Homo sapiens: one gene and its partner. The protein of the gene in region 1 interacts with the protein of each later gene in a biochemical or structural test. Each region holds a gene or a part of one and is shown on either strand. Other genes may lie near its edges.

Region 1 (3,825 bases):
GCAGATGCTTCTAGGGTGGAGAGCCCAGCCAGTGGTGAGGCTGTAGGGCCACAGTTCTCCTTGGGGAGCCACACTGGGTCCTCCAGGCCCCAGGCTGGTGTCCTCTCAGCCATCTTCTTGTTTGGAAGTCAGGGGGGGTGTTTTAGGGACAAAGACATTTCCAGTCACTGCAGTTTCCTTTGGTTCAGTGAATTTTGCCATCATAGCACCTCTTCAATTCAGAGAGAGGGAAGAAAAAGTGCTGGCACCTCAGCCCTGATCCTGCTACAGGGATGAGCCTCTTGAGATGCCAAGATTATTTTTTTTCTGTTTATGTCATTTCTGATTCCCGGTTGTTAGAAAACAAAGTTCAGATCATCTCTGAGACTGATGATGCAGTATTCCAGAATAAAAGAGCTATACCTCCTCTCCTCACATGCACTTTTCCCCTCCTCTGGCTTAGAGTACATTGCTGACTCTACAGTCATACTCTGGGCTATTGTCCTTTGAGGTGGGACATAGCTTTACAAGGAGGAGGCATGGAGACACCAGGGCCTTCTTTTTTCACCTTCCACCTCCCTATACAGTGAACTCCTCATTGATTTCAGGTCTCTCTGCTCCTGTGCAGTCTTGTCAATACTTGAGGAATCTTACTATTATTGGATTCAATGCCCAAGAAGAAGGAAAGCAAACACTCTATCCTAAAATCAGATTACAAAGAGATTCAGAAATTACACTCAACATGAGCTCTTCCCTCTGGGGTGACAGCTGCTTGCTGCTGCTTATTTCAGAGTGCAAAGGAGGCAGAGAGAGCTCTGGAGACAGAGCTGCTGCTGCCTGTGCAGAATTGTACAGGCCATCAACAGTTTTTCTACTGAGTTGAGTTTGTAAGTGGTTTTATGCTATAGGAACCAGCCAGTATTATGAGCAAGGCAGCACACCTGTTATAAAAGTGTAGAGATGAAAGTCTGGGTTGGTGTCAGTGTCACTGTGACCCTTGCAGATACCCAGAAGGATGTCTTTCTCCTTGGTCTGTCTTTGGGATAAAGCACTGTCTCAAGAAATTCCCCCTATTAAAATGCTGAAATGCAAAGTTGTTAGCTCAGCAGGTACCACTGATGATTAACATCATTAACAGCTGAGCAGAGCCTATTACTGAAGGAACAGGAATTGGGTTGGAGAAAGGTGAGAGCACATGAGGGCATTGCTGAGAGGGGCAAGCCTGAGTAGGGCACCGCATTGGTGCTTGGGGAACCTTGAGTAGGAAATATACATCAAAGCACAGGAATCTAGGTTCTGGAGATGGCGGTTCAGACTCCATCTTTATTTAGACCTTTGAGCAGAGGAGAAGAAGGCTTGAGTTACCTGGGAGAAAGTGGCCAACCTTCAGGCATTCAGAAGAGCATTATTCACCATCAAGACTGGTGCTAATACATACTTTGTTTTAAATAATTCATAATCAGAGAAAACAGTAAGATAAGGTGACTCTACATCAAAACGAGAACTAAGGTGCCTCCTTCCTGAAGTAGAAAAGTGTTTGAGAGACAAAACCTCATTATCAGTTATTGTATTCATTAACACGTCACTCATACTAATCCCAAGCAAATGCTCCAGAGCCCCTGAAACCATTTCAAAGCAATTCCTATAGCAAAAAAGGGAAAGTGCTAAGGGGAGCTGCTTATCCCCTAACAGAGCAAATAGAAAAAGCTCTTACTGGAAGGTAAAGGCATTGCACCCGACCAGTGACAGGTACTGGCATCAACTCTGAAAATTTCACAGTTGAGTTCTCTAATGGGGCTGGGCAGAGAGAGCTAGTCAGCGGGACTACAGGAAGGAATGGAAAGTTCTCCATCAATGGCACATAAATGTCCACAGTGTGAGAAGAGAAGTATTGATTTGAATCGTGTTGCTCTATACCATGGACCAGATCCAGACTGTAAATAATACCGGGGCAGAAGGAGAGATCCCGTTGGCTACCACATCATATCGACCAGAAGCCGAATCCAAGAGATCAGATCAAAATAGGACAGCTGGTCTTGGAGTAGCATAAGCCCCTCCTAAGTCCCTTCTCAGTCACCCAGGACACTTGGCTATTGTTCCAATTTAGGACAGTGGTTTTCCTCCAAGTAATCCTCTCTTCTGTCCAGGCTGGCTAGAAGAGAACAGTTCAAGAATAAACTATAGTGAGGTCTTGAACAGATCTCATCTCTTTGCAAGAGGCATTTTAGGAGAAAAATATAGCAAAGAACATACTAGTCAAATGATGGGTAAAGTCAGAGGTAAAGCGTTTGCTATATTTGGCAGCATTTCTATTGCCAGATGCCTGTGAGATTGCCTGCCCTTCCCAGGTCCTAGTTCAACCATTTGTAAAGGCATGGTAATAATTAATGATTACATCTCAGAGATGTCCTGAAGAAACTCCACATTTCCTCCAGGAGAACTAGATATGTAAATCTGGAGAGAGTAGCTTGGAATAATAGTTGCCCTATTCCCTGAAAATGTTTCCGTCAGCCTAAAGTATGAGCCATACATTAGGAACTCCAGGAACACAGGGGTCTTAAATTTGGTTTACGCCAAGTTCTCAGGTACCTACAGATTGGAAAGTTCACAAATCTAAACACTTTGGGGTCAAGCAGGTAGCTAAATGTGTAAATCAGGCTTTATTTGCAAATAGAGGCGGGCCTGATCTGTACGTTCAAATAAAAAAATTCTCAACACTGCCAGTCAAGCAAAACACATCTGCAGCAAGATTCTGAGCTGCCTACCATTGTGCAGCTGCAAATAAGCACTCCAAATCTGTTTGAATGAAAGCACTCCCTAGAATGCATGAATATTTTCATGATAGGATCAGGCTCACAATACACATCATGGTCCTTGGATAAAAATGTCAACCTTAAAGACAGTGTATCATTTATCACAGGGTATAAAAGAGAGATTGGCAGGCAGACAGATTAATGGGCTTAATAAATGATAGGCTTTATCATCAAAATGAATTCAGATCTTGCTAGTCTTTAAAACACCCTTTAAAATCATCATATGGATGTAGACATCATGAAATCTAAAGAAAGCAGGGTGTGCATTCAACATGTATTGACCAATTACTCTCCACCCAGCCTTAAACAAGTTACTGGAAGTTACATAGATGAAAAAGACATCTTAATGTTTGTTGTTTTTGACAGCTCAGGGTCAAGAGGGAGCTCAGACTTACTTTGAGGTAGCAAGGATATCAGTCACTTCAGATGACTTTATAACAATTAATTTAACTTTTCCATGTTTCTATGGTACAAAAATTTTCCTGTTGAAAGGTATGACCTTGGGGAAGTTTCCTTACTTCTGTTCTTGTTTTCTCATGTTAAATGAGGGTCATAATAGTGCCTATCTGAGAGGATTGTTGCAAGGATTAAATGAGTTCATCCATGTGAGGTACTTGGAACAGTGCTCAACATATAGTAAATCCTCAATAAATATTATTTATTATTGTCTCAACAAAACAGTGTAAACATTGACATTAGTCACACTAGCTATTCCAAATGTCATTGCACAGTCATTTTATTATTGGAAAGTACAAAGGGACAATCCCCTGGGATTATTCCATAGTCTTGATTCCTGGCATTCTGCTTCACTCTAAATATGAGCAGGCTTTGTGAATGGAAATGAGCCTGCAATGTTCATGGCCTTGGGAGTACAGATTGGGAGGTCAGTTCTCTGAGCGTCTACTTTGCAAAGCCTCTTGATGCAAATGCTGATTGACTTCTCCCTGGGCAATTTTAAATTCCTCACGTCAATAGATGGGCAACATGATTTGGAGAATCCACAGCTACACAAAAATTCATCATCTTTGCTTTG
Region 2 (3,825 bases), on another chromosome or scaffold:
TGTGGCCCAAATAGCTTTCCCTGGGGGATTTTTAACTTTTAAGGAGAAATTGGAGAATTTGAGATGCAGAGTCAATATATGACTGTAGTATTAGGACTCTTTCAGTAACAGGGGACAGAACCCCAACTCAAATGGATTTAAACAGAAAAGGGAATGAATTGACTGAAGCAATGTGAGGAGTCCAGGGCTGCTTCAGGCATGGCTAGATCAAGGGGCTCAAATGAGGTTCACACAGCATTTCTTGACTCTTTTCTTTTTTGTTGGCTTCATTCTCAGACAGGCTCTCCTCATATAGGCAAAGATGGGTTCTGGAAGCCCTGGGCTGCCATCCTACCAGCTTAGCAACCTTGGAAGGAAAAGAGCTCTTCTTTTCAGCTACTTTCAGTTGAATGACTCTTTTTATACTTGATAATGTAAACTTTTATTTATTTTATTTTTTGAGATGAGGTCTTGCCATGTTGCCCAGGCTAGTTTTGAACTTCCGGGCTCAAGTGATCCCTGCCTCAGCCTCTTAAGTAGCTGGAATGGCAGGCACACATCACTGTGTCTGCTATAACAGAAACTTTTAAATGAAGTCTAACATAAAAAGTGCCCAAATCCAAAGCATACAGTTCAATGAATTTTCACAAAGTGAACACACCAATACAGATAAAAAATAGAATATTACCAGCTCCCAGCCTGGTGTGGTTGTACCCACCTGTAATCCCAGCACATTTGGGAGGCAAAAGTGGGAGGATCACTTGAGCCTAAGAGTTCAAGACCAGCCTGGGCAACAGAAGGAGACCCCATCTCTCCAAAAAATACGAATAAATGAGCCAGGTGTGGTGCAGCAGGTGTGTAGTCCTAGCCACTTATGCCCGCTGCTGTTTCTTGGCACTGAGATGGTGAGGGCCCTGCTGCTGCTGCTGCGCCCCTGATTCAGAATCTACCTTCCTCTCTTCTCATAAAGTGCTGTCCTAGCACTTGTGTGTCCCAGTCCTTTGGTGGCCTGCTCAGGGATAAGCTGGTAGACCAGTTTCCAGTAAAGTGGTACCAGCTGATGAAGGCTGGCTGGGTCTCTTCCTCTAGCTAACATTTGCATTTTAAGCCTGATTTTCAAGTCTGGAAAGCTGAATATAATTCTGAATACACTGAGGACATATGGCTCAAATTTTTGCTCTACTGCGTGACTCTGGAAAAATATGTAAGCTCTCTGAGCCTCAGCTTCCTCATCTGTACAATGGGGATAGTAAATGTGCCAAATCAGAACAAATGCTAATGCTTACCTGCAGTCTTGTACTGAGAAGGATGGTGAGATCATATCTTGGGTTGGTAGGAAAGCATTCAGGGATTGATTAGTGATGTTTGCCTTGAACACAGGTTAAGAAAGTGATGGCATGTGTGCTGTGTGTTTGTCATCAGTAGATTAGATGATTTCTAAGTTCTAGCTGTAAGCTCCTCTGGTTCAGCGCCATGGCAATGAGAAAGAATCAAGGGCAAGGTCAGGGGAATGGACGTGGGAAGGTGAGAGTGGCCAGTACCCCACTCACGGCTTTCTGTGCCTGCAGAGTTCACCCATGCAGGGCAGGGAGGGCTGATTGAAGAGCCCACAGGTGATGAGCTACCAACCAAGAAGGGGCGGAGGAACCGTTTCAAGTGGGGCCCAGCATCCCAGCAGATCCTGTTCCAGGCCTATGAGAGGCAGAAGAACCCTAGCAAGGAGGAGCGAGAGACGCTAGTGGAGGAGTGCAATAGGTACAACGGCGGGCGGGAAACAGTGCTGGTTTGGTCTGGGCTGCGGCAAGGCCAGGGAAGGGGAAGGTGACTCTAGGTCCTGTAAAAGGCTGTCCAGTTGCCGAGAACTCCTGATATTGGCTTAGCCTGGCCCAGAAAATTGAGAATACTTGAACCTAAGCCCATTCCTCGCAGCCCCCCTGCACCCTGGACACCAAGCAACCCCTTCCATGGATGCTCACCCAATTCGATTCTCTCTACAATCCTATGGCTCTTTTGCTCACTTTATGAATGGAGAGACTGAGGTCAGACAGACTGTCAATTGCCCAAGGTCACACAGCAGACCTGGCATTGGAACCCAGATCTGCCAGCCTCAAACCCTCCGGCAGAGCTCAGCTTCTCAGAACCCTCCCCTTCATGCCCAGGACAGGGTTCCTCTGAGCCTGGCCTGGAGGCTCATGGGTGGCTATTTCTGCAGGGCGGAATGCATCCAGAGAGGGGTGTCCCCATCACAGGCACAGGGGCTGGGCTCCAACCTCGTCACGGAGGTGCGTGTCTACAACTGGTTTGCCAACCGGCGCAAAGAAGAAGCCTTCCGGCACAAGCTGGCCATGGACACGTACAGCGGGCCCCCCCCAGGGCCAGGCCCGGGACCTGCGCTGCCCGCTCACAGCTCCCCTGGCCTGCCTCCACCTGCCCTCTCCCCCAGTAAGGTCCACGGTAAGTGGTATGTGGGGACAAGGGACACGTGGGAAGGTGGGAGGGTTGGGGAGGACTGTCCCAGTGACAGCAGTCACCTAAACCTCTTTGCACTTCAGTTTGGTTCCATTCCATTCATGCCACTCCTTATCACTCTACTTCACTCTGTTCATTCATCCATTCCACTCTATCTCATTCCATTCACTCTACTCCTTTCCACTCTATTCACTCCATCCACCACAATTAACCCCATTCCATCCACTCCATCCACTACCTTCGACTCCACTCCATCCACTCTACTCCATTCACTCCACTCAACTCCACTCCATCCACTCCACTCCGTCCAACTTCATCCCATCCACTACATTCAACTCCACTCCATCCACTCTACTCCATCTACTACCTTCAACTCTACCCCATCCATCCACTCCACTCCATCCATTCCATCCAACTTCATCCCATCTACTACATTCAACTCTACTCCATCCACTCCACTCCATCCATTGCATCCAACTTCATCCCATCTACTACATTCAACTCCACTCCATCCACTCCACTCCATCCATTCCCTCCAACTTCATCCCATCCAGTACATTCAACTCCACTCCATCCACTGTACTCCATCTACTACATTCAACTCTACTCCATCCACTCCCCTCCATCCATTCCATCCAACTTCATCCCATCTACTACATTCAACTCCACTCCATTCATTCCACTCCATCCATTCCATCCAACTTCATCCCATCCACTACATTCAACTCCACTCCATCCACTCCATACCTGGCTCCATCCACTCCACTCCATCTACTACATTCAACTCTACTCCATCCACTCCATACTCTATTCCATCCACTTACTCCATCCACTCCATTCAGCTCCACTCCATCCACTCCACTCACTCAACTCCATCTACTCCACTCCCTCTACTTCATTCAACTCTGCTCCATCCACTCCACTCCACCCATTCCATCCACTGCACTCCAACCAGCTCCATTAGACTCCACTCCATCCACTCTACCCACTCTTCTCTCCACTCCTCTCCACTACATACCATTTTATTCTATCTGTCCCATCCACTCAACTCCATTCACTCCACATGACTCCACATTTCATCCATTCCACTCTACTTCATCCACTCACTCCACTCTATACCATTCCACTCCACTCTATTCACATACTCCACCATTCCAGTCTACTCCATTCACTCCACTCCAACCCACTCACTCCACTCCATACCATTCCACTCCACTGTGTTCACACAACTCCATCCATTCCACTCTAGCCACTCCATTCATTCCACTCCACGCCACACTATTCCTCACCATTCCATCCACTCCACCCTATACCATTCCACTCCACTCTATTCCTCCCCACCCGTCCTCTCCACCCTTTACCACTCCACTCGACTGT

The links.
Region 2: the proteins of RYR3 (region 1) and HNF1A form a complex in vitro, tested with the Homo sapiens proteins (one large-scale study listed by BioGRID).

The regions. Positions count from the first base shown.
Region 1 is NC_000015.10:33,317,349-33,321,173, forward strand, and holds part of RYR3 (ryanodine receptor 3), read left to right. Parts: intron 1-3,825. UniProt on the Homo sapiens protein: Cytosolic calcium-activated calcium channel that mediates the release of Ca(2+) from the sarcoplasmic reticulum into the cytoplasm in muscle and thereby plays a role in triggering muscle contraction. May regulate Ca(2+) release by other calcium channels.
Region 2 is NC_000012.12:120,991,973-120,995,797, forward strand, and holds part of HNF1A (hepatocyte nuclear factor 1-alpha), read left to right. Parts: intron 1-1,547; coding exon 1,548-1,734; intron 1,735-2,191; coding exon 2,192-2,433; intron 2,434-3,825. UniProt on the Homo sapiens protein: Transcriptional activator that regulates the tissue specific expression of multiple genes, especially in pancreatic islet cells and in liver. Binds to the inverted palindrome 5'-GTTAATNATTAAC-3'.